2 linked regions of the Homo sapiens genome follow. The protein of the gene in region 2 binds, or shares a complex with, the protein of the main gene of each other region. Each region holds a gene or a part of one and is shown on either strand. Other genes may lie near its edges. A codon is read from its position in the direction of its gene.

What was found.
Region 1: the proteins of TRIAP1 (region 2) and PRELID1 are in contact, whole or in part, in a crystal structure (PDB 6I3V), measured with the Homo sapiens proteins. Residues at the interface, in NP_057483.1 of Homo sapiens: Met1 (codon at 2,909), Asn2 (codon at 2,906), Ser3 (codon at 2,903), Val4 (codon at 2,900), Lys12 (codon at 2,876), Tyr15 (codon at 2,867), Asp16 (codon at 2,864), Phe19 (codon at 2,855), Asn20 (codon at 2,852), Trp22 (codon at 2,846), Phe23 (codon at 2,843), Phe27 (codon at 2,831), Leu28 (codon at 2,828), Gly30 (codon at 2,822), Asp31 (codon at 2,819), Ser32 (codon at 2,816), Phe41 (codon at 2,789), Tyr44 (codon at 2,780), Gln45 (codon at 2,777), Val48 (codon at 2,768), Gln49 (codon at 2,765), Ile52 (codon at 1,486), Ile57 (codon at 1,471), Pro58 (codon at 1,468), Ile59 (codon at 1,465), Leu62 (codon at 1,456), Glu63 (codon at 1,453), Phe64 (codon at 1,450), Met65 (codon at 1,447), Gly66 (codon at 1,444); in NP_037369.1 of Homo sapiens: Trp15 (codon at 4,883), Asp16 (codon at 4,886), Phe19 (codon at 4,895), Ala20 (codon at 4,898), Trp23 (codon at 4,907), Gln24 (codon at 4,910), Tyr26 (codon at 4,916), Pro27 (codon at 4,919), Val34 (codon at 5,487), Leu35 (codon at 5,490), Thr36 (codon at 5,493), Glu37 (codon at 5,496), Asp38 (codon at 5,499), Ile39 (codon at 5,502), Val40 (codon at 5,505), His41 (codon at 5,508), Arg42 (codon at 5,511), Val44 (codon at 5,517), Gln48 (codon at 5,529), Lys49 (codon at 5,532), Leu50 (codon at 5,535), Leu51 (codon at 5,538), Ser52 (codon at 5,541), Arg53 (codon at 5,544), Leu55 (codon at 5,550), Thr57 (codon at 5,556), Tyr79 (codon at 5,622), Leu81 (codon at 5,628), Asp83 (codon at 5,634), Ser84 (codon at 5,637).

What each region holds. Positions count from the first base shown.
Region 1 is NC_000005.10:177,299,146-177,306,815, forward strand, and holds the start of PRELID1 (PRELI domain-containing protein 1, mitochondrial isoform 1 precursor), read left to right. Parts: upstream 1-4,653; 5' UTR 4,654-4,840; coding exon 4,841-4,932; intron 4,933-5,479; coding exon 5,480-5,705; intron 5,706-6,353; exon of another isoform or gene 6,354-6,725; coding exon 6,726-6,839; exon of another isoform or gene 6,840-6,952; coding exon 6,953-7,031; exon of another isoform or gene 7,032-7,276; coding exon 7,277-7,425; 3' UTR 7,426-7,670. Other genes in the region: RAB24 (ras-related protein Rab-24), read right to left, coding at 2,598-2,662, 2,780-2,842, 2,983-3,033, 3,252-3,351, 3,432-3,499, 3,607-3,685, 3,864-3,932, 4,027-4,143. UniProt on the Homo sapiens protein: Involved in the modulation of the mitochondrial apoptotic pathway by ensuring the accumulation of cardiolipin (CL) in mitochondrial membranes.
Region 2 is NC_000012.12:120,443,464-120,450,973, forward strand, and holds TRIAP1 (TP53-regulated inhibitor of apoptosis 1), read right to left. Parts: upstream 2,922-7,510; 5' UTR 2,910-2,921; coding exon 2,763-2,909; intron 1,493-2,762; coding exon 1,409-1,492; 3' UTR 501-1,408; downstream 1-500. Other genes in the region: GATC (glutamyl-tRNA(Gln) amidotransferase subunit C, mitochondrial), read left to right, coding at 3,018-3,098, 3,194-3,366. UniProt on the Homo sapiens protein: Involved in the modulation of the mitochondrial apoptotic pathway by ensuring the accumulation of cardiolipin (CL) in mitochondrial membranes.

The DNA of each region.
Region 1 (7,670 bases), on a different chromosome or scaffold from region 2:
TGAAATAAGAATAGATCATTGTTTTGTACACACACACAATAAAATGTAATGATGGTGCTAATTTCACGGTATAAATAAGCACTGCCAAGGGTTGAGGGACTGGCAGCTCAAGAAACCCGGGTTCCTGTTTGGGAGGAGATTTTATGTAGAAAAGTTTGAGGCTTTGTTAAAAGTGGGGAGAAGGAAGATCCTCAGTGAAGCCTGCACCCAACCCTGGAGTGGCCCAGTGCAATCCAGAGGTGGAAGAGATCCTATATCCAGGTGAAGGTGGCCATTGAGTTTCTCAGGGCTGGGGCCACCTTGTCCATAGCCTCCGTCCACGCTGCCTGGAGCAGGTTGTTAGAGAGCTCTGGTTGTTGGGTCTTCCTCAGCTCCCTTCTGCCCCTCTCTACCTCTTCCACTCATGGAAGCCCCTCTACTGCTTATGAAGATTAAGGGTAGTATTTTCTAAGGAAGTGGAAAGAATTAAACTAGAAATCCACAACCTCGGAAGAAGTGTTTCGAGTTTAACATGCGCTGTTTCTGCTTATGTGGTTCCTTCTCTAGAGCTGCTTTCCCATGGCTTTCAAAACATCAGGTTATTGTGGGGCTTCAGGTGTAAGGTCCTGGAAGTTCAGCAAAGTTTCGTGGACAAGACATGGGCACAGAGAGTAGAAGCAGAAATAAATGGTTCTATGTTTTCAACTTCCAGGGTTGGGGCAGGCCAGAGCAAGGCGGTCTCATCGAGGTGGGTGCTACCTGTGTGTGTGTAGATGAGTGTGCTGAAGGTGGGGAGGGCAGCACACAGCAGCTCATGGCAGAGCCGCCTCCTAGGTCTTGGCAAAGAGGCAAGCTGACGATAGACATCTACCTATATTGTTAAGAAAGGGGTCGGGGGGATCAGCCAAGGTCCATCATTGCTTTTTTGCCGCGCCCCCCCCCCCCCGCCCCCATAGATTGTCAGCTGTAAGTGAAACTCCTAGTGAAAAAGAGGGGAGCCCTGTGTTAGGAGTCCCCATAAACATGTACTGTAATTCTTTGTATATAGAAAAAAAATTTACTGTAAAGTAAAGTTTAACTTTACTCATATATGGCCCTTGCCCTGTGTTTTGTTTTATTGGCTGTGGGGAGTTGTAGTCTAACAGGAGGGAGGATTGTTTGGGGTGAGAGCAGAAGCCAGCCCCAGAGATAGTACGAGGTGGGGGGCGGGGGGCGCAGGGATACTGTGAAGCTAAGCCCTTCCTCCAAGCACGTCATGGGAATAGTGTGTTTCCTCTCAGCAGCCACAGGGCTGCCCAAGCCTCTTTCTCCCTCTGTTGGGAGTGGCTGGTTTCAGTTTCAGTCTCCCTCCACAGGAAGCCCCCATCACTCATGAAGGAAGGGCAGTTTGAGGAATTGGTTTTTAAAAAGGAAGTGGAACCAAAGCACTCTCTGAGTGTGAGTCTGACCATGTTGGCTAAGTTGTACATTTTTCCAAGGCAGGTGTTGGCCACTGCAGAGGACTCAGCCCAGGCCTAAATAAAGGCAGGAAAGCAGAGGCAAAGGATAAAACTAAGGGAAAGCCCCTGGCCTGGGGCCACACCCTCCATACCAGAAAGGGCTGCAATAAATTTCCTTCTGGTTGAGCAGCAAGTGTCAGCCCTGTTTACAGTTAACACCTGATTCCTCAGAAATATCTGGATCTTCTTTGGGGAAAACTTGGGAGTTTGCTTCCCTTTGTGACCTAGTCCTGAACTTCCTGCCCTTTCAGCAAAAAGTGCTTGGGAAGATTGGGAAAAACATTTAGTACTAGAGTTACTCTTCACTTTCTTCACAATCCTTGGGCTGCATAGTAGTCACCTTATTTTACAGATGAGAAACTCAAGATGAGGATTTAAGTCCCTTTTCTAAATTAGCAGCTGAATTGGAACCAAATCTGGATCCATTAGACCTTTCTGGCTTACAGAACTTAGGACTTTCCTACCATTAAACCACATTGTAGGATGTCACTGGGAAGCTCAGGACCTGAGTCACAGGTCTGACATAGGGGCCCAAACATGACAGATGCAGTAGAGCTAGTCAGACCAACCTGTCTCAGGTAGGAATGCTTGACCCTTTTATTTCGAAGCAACTCATGCACTCTTTTCAGCACTCAGAAGGAACTGTGAGCTTTTATACTACTACAGCCCCAGTATCTCAGCGGTAACCATGGGGAAAAAAGTCTTGTTTTCCAAAGGAAAATGAGAGTTGGGAGGAGCCTTAATATAAGCAGTGAGGCCAGCCGGGTGGCCCCAGGAAGAACTAGGTGTCTTGACACCTAATCCACACAGCAGGGAAAGGGGCTGGGTGTGATGCACAGTGCACTGATTTTATTTACAGATCAAAAGCCACTTAAATAATCTGCAGACACAAGTGCTGTCCAGGGCAGAAGCCTGGGGTCCAAATCAGCCTTATCCCTCCTCATGCCCACAGTCAGCCCAATGCTGTCTCCGTTCCATGGGCCAGCACAGGCAGGCGCCACTCTGCTGACATGAGGACCTGGGGTAGCTCAGACATTTGACTACCCAAGCCCAGAAAGGAGCTGGGTCCAGCCCTTACGGGGAATTCCTTTAATTCCCCCAGGCCAGGTGAGTGCTGACTCAGTGATGACAACAGCTGTAGAAGTAGGGGTTTGGCTTCTGGCCCAGATCCACGCCCTTGTCCTCTGTCAAAAAGAGAGGTGGCAGCTCAGCACCATTCTGTTGGGATCAGGTAACTCAGGAAAGGGGCTAGATGCTGTGGGCCTAGAGTAAGTCTCCATAAAGGCTGGGGAAGCACACACCTGTCATCACCTGGAAGGCAGCCACACTGACGTAATCCTCTGCCACTTTCTGGAAGAGCTCGTCTGGCAGGAAAAATGATGATCAGCGAGGGCCCAATGCCAGTAGCCCTGGGATCTCCCAGTGACCCAGCCCTCTGTGCCCTATTCAGCTTCCTCTGGTGCCCCTGCATGTTCCTGCTGTGAGGCTCCAGCACAGCACTCACCCACACTCTGGCCTGTCTTGCTGGATGTTTCAAAGAGCTGAGCTTTGATATCTGTAAAGAGAAGTGACTAAAGCCTCATACCTGAGAATTAGATAAACAGACAAAAGGGAGGGCTAGCAGTTCAGGGAGTCTCCTGGACCCCACAGTTCAAGGAGGCCAGGAAGACCTCCTAGAGCACCTTGCCCTGGCAGCCAAGGCAGTCCCTATTTTCTTTGATCCACCCAGACAGCCACACACCCCCACCCCCCAAAGGGCTGAGGAGCAGCTACTGTCTGCATAGTCCTGGACGTCGTGGAAGTCCACACGTCGACGCCTCCGGTCTTCTTCCAGCAGGTCACTCTTGGTGCCACATAAGTAGATTTGGCAGCCCTGAGGCAGAAGACAAGGGTCACCTCCACAGGCCAACAAAACCCCAGCCCCTAGTGTTCTAGTGAGGTCTGTTCACCTACCTCCTCTAGGCTGCGCAGTTCCTTCACCCAGAACTTTGCTCGCTCAAAGCTGCTGCTGTCTGTGAGGTCTTGGTGTGCGGCATGCAGGAGACAACCAAGTGGTCAAGGGCTGTTCTCTGGCTAGCCTGGCACCCATCTTTTCTTGTGAGACAGCCCAAACCCCCCCCCCCCTTACCATAGCAGACGATGGCAGCCTTGGCACCCCGATAGTAGATTCTACTCATGGCCTCATAGCGCTCAGAGCCTGCTGTGTCCTAAAGAGTAAGGCCTGAGTCAAACTTAAGGCCACGTTCTCCAGACCCCGCTATTTTCCAGATAAGGAAACGGGTCTATGAGAAATGGGTCTGTGAGGCCACAAATCAACCAGTAATAGGCAGGACCTACACCTCCTCAGGAATGAGTCTCCCAAGAATAGATGGCCGGGGGACTTACCCAAATACCTAATGTCACAGTCCGGTCTCCGACCGACATCACCTTGGCCACGAAGGCGGCCCCGATGGTCTGCAACGAGAGGGAAGAGATCGGGGCCATAGGTGCAGATTACCGGCCCCCCACTCCCCCGCCCACCGTGCCTGGCCCCTCCGGATGCACTCACGTTCTGATAAGGCCCCACCAGAAAGCGGTCGTGCACGTAGCGCTCCACCAGGCTAGTCTTGCCCACGTACTCCTTGCCCAGCATCACCACCTTGACGTCCACGCGCTGCCCGCTCATGCTCCCGGGGCCGCTTCAGCCACGTCAGGGTCCTGAGCGGGGACGGGAGGCAAACCCCGATCTCCGCTCGGCCCAGGCAGCGCCCAAGCCTCAGACCCCGACCCCAAACGGCGCCAACCTACGACTCCAGACAGCGCGTCGGGCTCGAGCTCTGGCCGTGGCCTTGCACTTCGGCAGCGCCCCGTGTGCCCCCGCTGTTCGGCCCCGGGCGCCGATTATCCTTCGAAGACCCCAAGCCTCGGGGCGGCCTGGGAGCGCGCGGGACAGCGTCCTCAACAGCGCAGCACGCCGCCGTGCAGCTCGCTACTCCGTCATTCGCTCGCCTGCCCGGCTTAAGCTCCGTTCTGGCTGGGAATCCCAACCGAACCTGGGGTCTCCCGCAACCCGGCTCCTACCCGCAGCGCCGCGACTCCCGCGGGAGGGGGCTAGAGGGCGAGGGGGCGGGGCCGCAAGGTCACGTGGCGCGGGCGCCGGAAGCGGTGGCTACTGTGTGGCTGCGCCGGAAGTGGCGCGCGGCCGGACAACTCATGGCGGCGGCGGCGGCGGCGGCAGCTGCTTGGGCGCGGTGCGGTGGTGACTGAGCTACGAGCCTGGCGGCGGGTGTGCGCCGAGCCCCGGCCCGGCCCGGCCCTCGCGTGCCTCCCAGGCTCCGCACCCCTGATGCTGCGCGGGTGCTGAGCCCGCTTCGGCCGGGACGATGGTGAAGTATTTCCTGGGCCAGAGCGTGCTCCGGAGTTCCTGGGACCAAGTGTTCGCCGCCTTCTGGCAGCGGTACCCGAATCCCTATAGGTACGTGGTATTTGGAAGAGCAAAACCGCGCCATCTCGCTATCTGGAGATCGAATTATGGGTAACCCCCAAGTACTGGGACCAGGAAGGACTCGATATCGAATCCTAGGTAGACCTTATCGGGGAAGCGGCCAGGCCAGGCCTGCAAGGTCCTGAAGGGAGGTTGGGCCTGGGTGGTGGTTTACTTGAGACCTTAGTGTAAGATTCTTTTCTCAGTGTGGTGAGACAAGAAGAGGCGGCAGTATGGGAGTTGGGAGGGATCTTGGAGTTGGAAATCCTATTTCTCTGCCCGTGGCGCTTTCCTGGGGTGCAATAAATCATGAGGTCCATTCCTGCTAGAAGGCAGGAATCCAGGTCAGTCAGATGGCGGGAGTGGGAATTTGCCCTGGGATGGGCCCTTAACTCTGGTTTGAACCATAGCACATACCACCCTGCAAGGTTACGGGAAGGCGTGGCCTCTCTAGGCCCGGAGCCTCCAAATGGGAATCCCCTCGGGCAGTCTCTTAGGGGCAAGCTTCTGAGGGTCACCTTCACCCTGACACCTGCAGCAAACATGTCTTGACGGAAGACATAGTACACCGGGAGGTGACCCCTGACCAGAAACTGCTGTCCCGGCGACTCCTGACCAAGACCAACAGGATGCCACGCTGGGCCGAGCGACTATTTCCTGCCAATGTTGCTCACTCGGTGTACGTCCTGGAGGACTCTATTGTGGACCCACAGAATCAGACCATGACTACCTTCACCTGGAACATCAACCACGCCCGGCTGATGGTGAGACACCTCCTGTTGTGATTCTGCACCTCCCCCTCTCCCCTCCCCCCGAGATAGAGAGCTCCTCAGATACATGTGGCTAGAGAGCCATAAGGCAGCTTTTGTGGCCGGAGGCAGGTCTGGGTTACTGAGGGTTGACAGCTGTAGAGTATGACCTCAGGTTTTCTTCTTTTCAGCTGGCCATCCTCTCTGGACCTGTCCTTTGACTCATTCATACAGTGGGGGAGGGGTACCTATCTTACGGAGTTGTCCTAAGTTCTAAATGCAAAGCGCTCCCATCTGGCATCTATGGCACAGATATATGTTGGACTCACAGGAGTGATGCTGAGTGGCGGAGGCAGTGCTTTTCTTTTTTTTTTTTCTGTTTTTTGTTTTTTTCTGGTGACAAGAGTCTCACCCAGGTTGGAGTGTAGTGACATGATCTCACCTCACTGCCACTGCCACCTCCTGGGTTTAAGCAATTCTCGTGCCTCAGCCTTCTGAAGAGGTGGATTTCTAAGCACACACCACCACGCCTGGCTAATTTTTGTATTTTTAGTACAGACAAGGTTTTACCATGTTGGCCAGGCTGGTCTCGAACTCCTAACCTCAAGTGATCCGCCCGCCTCGGCCTCCCAAAGTGCTAAGATTACAGGCGTGAGCCACCGCGCCGGGCAAATGTTTTTATTTGGACTGTCAGGAAGCTCCAGAGCTGCAGCTGGTGGAAGGCGGCTAAAACACTGCATGCGTCTAGATGCACAAAACAAAATCCAGGAGCAGGATGGGCTGGAAGGCCCTTTGTTGATCTCAAGAGAGAGACCTTTTGCCTTCTAGTTTAAGAGTCAGAAGAGAGGTTTTCGAGAGCAAAACGACCTTATTTATGGCTTCTTGTTCTGTCAGTGCCACTTGGAGGTGCAGTCAGGGGAAGGAATGGATTTTCATTGTATTGCTTCGCCTCATGAAAAGTGACAGGGAGTCAGATTTATGTGCAAGTTGGCAAAATGAAAGACTGTTCCACGATTGTGGTTGGCCTCTGCATAGGTGGTGGAGGAACGATGTGTTTACTGTGTGAACTCTGACAACAGTGGCTGGACTGAAATCCGCCGGGAAGCCTGGGTCTCCTCTAGCTTATTTGGTGTCTCCAGAGCTGTCCAGGTGAGCAGTGTTGTTGGGGCTGCTGGGGCTCTGGGACCCAGTGCTTTCGGTGTTGGGGCTGGGCTGGGGTCAGTGGGCAACTCAGTATCCTTCCCATTCTCATCTCATGCCAGGAATTTGGTCTTGCCCGATTCAAAAGCAACGTGACCAAGACTATGAAGGGTTTTGAATATATCTTGGCTAAGCTGCAAGGTGAGTTTCTGGGTATGTGGATATTCCTCATAGGGAGAGGCTCATTCAGCCTAGCGGGCGTGGAGTCTGGGTTAGTCATTGCCCTGCTCTGAGCTGGGACTCCTTGTCTGTACTGGGGGTGGGAGGAGGGTGAATACCACCTTTTTAGTGGAGCCTGGCCCAGAGGAGATTGGTGTCATGGGGGAGGGAAATTAGGTTGGTCTTTCAGGCATCTTCTAAAGGCAGCCACCTGCCGTTCGCGACAGGCGAGGCCCCTTCCAAAACACTTGTTGAGACAGCCAAGGAAGCCAAGGAGAAGGCAAAGGAGACGGCACTGGCAGCTACAGAGAAGGCCAAGGACCTCGCCAGCAAGGCGGCCACCAAGAAGCAGCAGCAGCAGCAACAGTTTGTGTAGCCAGTCTACCACCACCACAGCACCCCAGACAGCTAGGCTTAGCCTCTCTGCCCTCCCTTCATTGTACTTTATCATTAAAAATCAACTTCCAGCCCTGTCTGCTGTCTACGTGGTGGGTTGTGGGGATGCAGTTTGGCATCTGCAGTACACCAAGCACATGATTCATGTCTGAGCCAGGTCTGCTTATTCTCCCATTGGGCAGCTGAGGACCGAGGCACAGAGGTGCGGTGACTTGCCCGGGGCTC
Region 2 (7,510 bases):
TCCTGATCCTTTTTTGGTACCGTAGTGTATTTGTATAGCCTATTGTGGAAATTTTAGAAATCAGTGAGGTTTTGGCTGGGTGCGGTGGCTCATGCCTGTAATCCCAGCACTTCGGGAGGTCAAGAGTTCAAGACCAGCCAACATGGTGAAACCCCATCTCTACTAAAAATACAAAAACTAGCTGGGCATGGTGATGCATGCCTGTAATCCCAGCTACTTGGGAGACTGAGGCAGGAGAATCATTGGAACCCAGGAGGTGGAGTTTGCAGTAAGACAAGATTGCGCCACTGCACTCCAGCCTGGGTGACAGAACCAGACTGTCTCAAAAAAAAAAAATGTGAGGTTTCTGATTGCCATACTGTACCACCTAGCTTAAGACAAGTCACTTTTTCTTCACCTTTAAGTTACAAAACACAAAACTCTCCCCACTGTATATATGAGGTTTGTAGGGTAACAGGGTAATAGTTCCATAAAATGCACTGAGTTCCAGAGGCAAATAATGATAGAAACTAAATGTTACAATTTATTCCATCTTCAGGATTACAGACATTACAGGGCAGGATGAGTAAACAAGGCAAATGAAGCGAGCACCTTCAGCTTCCCCCCTACCCCGACATTTAACCAGATGCAGCATTTTGACATTTTTAGGATATGCAGGTTGACAATTCACTGACTTGGGTTGAGAGCTGGCAATAGCAGATCTTTGCAATTTAGGTTCTTCCTCCACAGCTATTCCAAGTATCTTAATTCCTGAACTGCACACTGAGAGCTCTGAAATGGTGTTCACTGCAACATTCTTGCAGCTTTCACATCTTAATCTGACACCTCTTGTGAAGGCAGGGAACTGTGTTAAAAGCTGTCTTCCTCTTTGCTAATCCAGGCCACCATCAATCTTAACCATTAGTTACTATATAAAAATAAAAGTGTGCTCAAAAGCACTCACTGAAACTGTTGTGCCCAGATCCCTTTTCAGAGCATTAGTTCCCTGAGAGGAAAAAAAGAGGTCCTAACCAATTGCTTTCATAAATAGTGACCCCAGTACAGTGTATATGTCTTTTGCAGCAGAAATCAAGAGGTCAGGCAGCTCTGCTCATCCTGACTAGTTTATCATCGTTTGCATACAAGGTATATTTATGTAAAGCTGATTCCACGCCAAGTATTGCAACCATAATCTCAAAAAAATTGTTCAATTTTAGCACACAGTTCCTGCAAGATACCACAGCAGGTGAGAAATCATCTCAAAGAGTTCATCTTTTACAACTGAGAGGAAAACATCGAAGGAGGAAATAAAACTCCTCTCTCCTAAGTTCCTCATCAAATCTGATGGCTATGTTCACAGAGTTAGTTGACAAAAATCCAGAGTCCTCAATTTCTGGACTTGCGAAATCCTTCAAGGTGACTGTCAAGGTCAAGAAGAATTTTCAGGCTTTTCTTTGCCATGGCCCATGAACTCCAGTCCTTCAATAGGAATCTCTTTCTCCTTTATTGCTTTCTGGTAGGAGGAGAAAACACATTATAAAGACCTACATGAAGCTTAAGTTGCAAGCTTTGTAAATAAAATATGACAGTACAAAAGTAAAATCAAGCTGATTATAAAGACTTATAACCATGATTCAAACCACATACTTTTTAAAAAACAAGTACCGGTCAGGTGTGGTGGCTCACGCCTATAATCGCAGCATTTTGGGAGACCAAGGCAGGTGGATCACTTGAGGCCAGAAGTTAGAGACCAACCTGGCCAACATGGCGAGACCCTGTTTATACTAAAAATACAAAAATTAGCTGGGCATGGTGGCGCATGCCTGTAAGCCCAGCTACTCGGGTGGCTGAGGCATGAGAATAGCTTGAACCTGGGAGGCGGAGGTTGCAGTGAGCTGAGATTGTGCCATTGCACTCCAGGCTGGGAGACAGAGTGAGACTCTGCCTCAAAAATAAATAAAAACCAGAAGTACCATAATGAATAAATCAAGTGTAAGACCTGAGGGAGACTGGAAAAGGAGTTGTGAGGGAACCGTTAAAATTAAGTGAAATTTGAAAAATAATCATCACTTTGTGTTAGTGAAAGACTTAGGTTCAAATCTGGGTTCCAGGACTTACTGGCTATGTGACTAACTGTAAATGGGATGAAGACAGCAACTACCTCGGGGAATTGCTGTGAGGATGTGTTGGGTTAACTTATTGGAAGTGCTTTGCCCGGTGCTGTTCTTAACAATTCAAAGCAGTTCCACATCCATTGGGCCAGAATAAACATTTCCTGGCTGCAGTTGCGGGGACTGGTCAAGAGAGAGAAACAGGCTAACGAAGGGTTTATAACAACAAAAAAATGTGACCCTCCAGTCTGAATTCTGAAGTATAATCCCGCCCAGACCCCAGCAGTAATAGTGGAAAAGTGCACCACCTGCGAAAGAACCAAGGAAACCTGATGCTAGTGAACTCGGATTAATCACTTCCTATTTCTGGGTGTTAGTTTTTTATGTATAAAATATGAGTAACTATGCCCACCTTGCGAGTTTAGGGTGAACACCAAATGAACCAAAGGATGTGACTGTGCTTCTTGAAAAGCACTGCCCCAATATTTGTCATTCGGAGAGACACCCAAGTGGCCTCGGTGGTGATGGTAGGGGAGCGAGCTCCTGCCACTGGCCTCACTGCGACTTTTCTCCACCCTTCCAGTCCAGTCCCAATCCCCGTAAAATACGATGAGTGTGGTGGGACACAGCGCCGAGAATGCAGGGCCTGGGAACAGAGGCGGGAGGGCTCACCTGAACACACTGCTGGTAGCGCTTGAAGAGGTCGGTGCACGGGTCCCCGGAGCTGTCCCCCTTGAGAAATTTCTCGGCGAACCAGCGATTGAAGCACTGGTCGTACTCGCGCTTCATGTCCGTGCATGCCTCCCCCACACTGTTCATGGCGACAGTGGTGGCGGCGGCGACGACGGCGCACTCTGATGTCATCACTCTCAGGCGCGTCGCTCGGCGTTACGCGCGGGCGCACTGCGGGGGCCAAGGAAGGAAGAAATGTGGTCGCGGTTGGTGTGGCTGGGCCTTCGGGCCCCTCTGGGCGGGCGCCAGGGCTTCACCTCCAAGGCGGATCCTCAGGTAAAGGCCAGGGCCATCTAGGCGGGTGGCGGAGCAAGCCGGGAGGCACTTCGGAGCGCCGGTGACCCACACTCCCCGCCTCATCCCTCCTCCAGGGCAGTGGCCGGATCACGGCTGCGGTGATCGAGCACCTGGAGCGTCTAGCGCTTGTGGACTTCGGCAGCCGCGAGGCAGTGGCGCGACTGGAGAAAGCTATCGCCTTCGCCGACCGGCTACGCGCCGTGGACACAGACGGGGTGGAGCCCATGGAATCGGTCCTGGAGGACAGGTAAACTCGCGGCTGCAGCCCCGAAGCCTTGACCGTGGCCCGTTCGCAGCCGTTTAATGTGACGATTAGCGAACAGTTTTCCAGGGGGTTAAAGAGTGTTAGCAAGATTCAGGAACTTGCCCACAGTCACCTCGCGAGTCAGTGGCTTCACTCTTCCCCTTGTTCATTACTGATGCTCTCGCTAGTGTAAGTGGAAACAAAACCCGAACTGCTAATCACTGCCTTTGTTTTTTTTTTTGTTTGTTTGTTTTGTTTTTTTTTTTTTGAGACGGAGTCTCGCTGTGTTGCCTAGGCTGGAGTGCAGTGGCTCGATCTCGGCTCACTGCAACCTCCGCCTCCCGTGTTCAAGCAATTCTCTGCCTCAGCCTCCCGAGTAGCTGGGATTACAGGCGACTGCCACCAGGCCCGGCTTATTTTTTTTGTATTTTTAGTAGAGACGTGGTTTCACCATCTTGGCCAGGTTGGTCTTGAACTCCTGACCGTGATCCACCCGCCTCGGCCTCCCAAAGTGCTGGGATTACAGGTGTGAGCCACCGCGCCTGGCCTAATCATCGCCTTTAAGGCCCTACTCCATAGAGTCCCTACCTACTCACTCCAACGTACTCTTCTCAGTACTCTCCTTGGCTACCTTGACTGCTTCTCCAGCAAGACAAGTTCTTTTCCTCTCTAGATCTCTGCACTGGCCCTTCGTTTTTTTCCTTCCTCTCAGTATTTGCATGGCTGCCTCCCTCTTGGCACAGGTCTCAGCTTATCTTCTCAGAAAGGGCTCTCCTAACCACTCCAAATCCCTTCTCCCCTTCTAGTTAGTAACTCATCCTATTGGGTTTTTTCCCTAACATTTTAATGGACTTTTGTTCATTTGTTATATCTCTTTTATTAAAATGTGAGCTCATTATGTAGTTACTGTTTTATTCCTGCCTTGAATTTTTATTTTATTTGTTTTTGAGATGGAGTCTCACTCTATCACCCAGGTTAGAGTGCAGTGGCATGATCTCAGCTCATTGTAATGTCCACCTCCCAGACTCAAGAGAGCCTCCCATCTCAGCCTCCCAAGTACAGGACCACAGGCGCGTGCCACTTGGCCTGGCTAATTTTTTGTATTTTTGATAGAGACGGGATTTTGCCATGTTCCCCAGGCTTGTCTGGACTCCTGAGCAAAGGTGATCCACCCATCTCAGCCTCCTAAAGTACTGGGATTACAGGCATGAGCCACAGCACCTGGCCGTGTTTGATTCTTTCAAATGTCTTCTCTACTTTGCAATTTTCTTTTTCCTTTGGGACGGGGTCTCACTATGTTGCCCAGGCTGGTCGCAAACTTCTAGACTCAAGAGATCCTCCTGCCTCAGCCTCCCAAATAGCTGGGACTATAGGTGTGCACCACCACACCTGGCTAATACTTAAAATTTTTGTAGAAACGGGGTCTTGCCATGTTGCCCCATATGGTCTCAAACTCCTGGTCTCAAGCAATCCTCCTGCCTCAGCCTCCCACTTCCTCAAGAAAGTTTTTTTTTTTTTTTGAGGTGGAGTCCTGCCCCATCACCCAGGCTGGAGTGCAGTGGCATGATCTTGGCTCACTGCAACCTCCACCCTCCAGGTTCAAGTGATTTTTGTGCCTCAGCCTCCGGAGTAGCTGGGATTACAGGCACCCGCCACCACACTCAGCTAGTTTTTGCATTTTTAGTAGAGACAGGGTTTCACCATGTTGACCAGGCTGGTCTCGAACCCCTGGCCTCAAGTGATCCGCCCATCTTCGCCTCCCAAAGTGCTGGGATTACAGGTATGAGTCACTGCACTGGCCAAAAAAGTCCATTCCTTTTTTTTTTTTTTTTTTTTTGAGACGGAGTTTCACTCTTCCACCCAGGCTGGAGTACAGTGGTGCAATCTCAGCTCACTGCAACCTCCACCTTCCGGTTTCAAGTGATTCTCTTGCCTCAGCCTCCCGAGTAGCTGGGACTACAGGCGCCCGCCACCACGCCCAGCTAATTTTTGTATTTTTAATAGAGACGGGGTTTCACCATGTTGGCCAGGCTGGTCTCGAACTCATGACCTCACAGTCCACCCGCCTCGGCCTCCCAAAGTGCTGGGATTATAGGCGTGAGCCACAAGTCTTCATTCTTTTATACTTAGGTTCTTTTTTTTTTTTTTTAATTGAGACAAGAGTCTCGCTCTGTCGCTGAGGCTGGAGTGCAGTGGCGTGATCTTGGCTCACTGCAAGTTCCGCCTCCTGGGTTCATGCCATTCTCCTGCCTCAGCCTCCCAAGTAGCTGGGTCTACAAGTGCCCACTACCACGCCTGGCTAATTTTTTGTATTTTTAGTAGAGATGAGGTTTCACCGTAGCCAAGATGGTCTCGATCTCCTGACCTCGTGATCTGCCCACCTCAGCCTCCCAAAGGTGCTGATTACAGGCGTGAGCCACTGTGCCTGGCTATACTTAGGTTCTCTACCTGTGGCTCTCGTGATATCCAAAAGGGCTGATTTATACATGCGTTTATACATCTATTTAAGGGATGTGTTGAGTCTCTGCCCCTCTCCTGCTCACCCACCTTCCACAGCATGTCTGTTTTTCCTTATCATGTTCTCAGTGGTTGGCACTGAGTATTCAGTAAATGTGTTTTGTTTTGTTTTGTTTTGTTTTTTTGAGATGGAGTCTCACTCTGTTGCCCACGCTGGAGGCAGTGGCGTGATCTCGGCTCACTGCAACCTCTGCCTCCTGGGTTTGAGATTCTCTTGCCTCAGCTTCCCGAGCACCCGGGATTACAGGCATGCACCACCATGCCTGGTTAATTTTTGTATTTTTAGTAGAGAGGGGTTTCACCATGTTGGCAAGGCTCGTCTTGAACTCCTGACCTCAGGTGATCTGCCTGCCTCAGCCTCCCAAAGTGCTGGGAATACAGCCTTGAGCTGCCGTGCCCGGCCACAGTAAATGTTTAATGAATTTTTTTTTTTTTAGAGACAGAGTTTTGCTCACGTTGCCCAGGCTGGAGTGCAATGGCGCGATCTCAGCTCACCACAACCTCTGCCTCCCAGGTTCAAGCGATTCTCCTGCCTCAGCCTCCCAAGTAGCTGGGATTACAGGTGCACGCCACCACGCCCAGCTAATTTTGTATTTTTAGTAGAGACAGGGTTTCTCCATGTTGGTCAGGCTGGTCTCAAACTCCCGACCTCAGGTGATCTGCCCACCTTGGCCTCCCAAAGTGCTGGGATTACAGGCATGAGCCACCATGCCCGGTCCCAGTGTTCTTTATTAATATCTCTAGGAAAGGAGGGACTAGAAGCACAGAGTCATCAGAATTTCCCCAAGTTATCTAGAGGGTAAATACAAAGAAATATAACCATCATTAATAAGGGAAAAGGTCGTGAAAAAAGATGAGGAATTTGGATCCAGTAGCTAGCATCTCAACCTCGTATTCAGTGATCTGTACTGTTTTTCATAAATTTGGAAACCAGTTTGGGTTAATAATTCCCATTAATCATTTTAATGTGACATCTGTAGGACTTTAATGCTTTGAACACACAGAATGTAAAGTGAAGACAAGTATTAAACCTTTTATTTTTTATTTTTTTGTAGTTTTTATAACTTCATTTGATGTATTTGATGATCAGCAGTTAGTTCCCATCCACACTGACTGTAGATTTGTGAAAGTGGTAACAAGTATATAACCAAAGTATAGAGCTTATTTGGTGAATTTCTAACCTCATTATGTTTTCTGGACCATCCACTGCACATGGACACAGTATGGACATTCCTTACTACTTTGGCCCAGACAGCTTTGTTGAGCCTGGTATCAATACACATATCTGGAGTTTTCTATCTCCTTCATTGCAAATTTCCGGTCTCTTTAAGAGCCTGAGGGGCACACTTCTTGAAGCCCACTCCATGGATACACTTGTGAATATTAATGGTGTACTCTTGGGTCACCACCTAGTTGATGGCATAATGGCCATTCTTCTCACCATCCTTCTTTGCAGGAGGCCAAGTTGCTTAAATGTTTTAGGTAGTAGGCATCTTAGCTATAAAAGCCCTGACTTGGCCGGGCATAATGGCTCACTCCTGTAATCCCAGCATTTTGGGAGGCCGAGGCAGGCAGATCACTTTAGGTCAGGAGTTCGAGACCAGCCTGGCCAACATGGCGAAACCCTGTT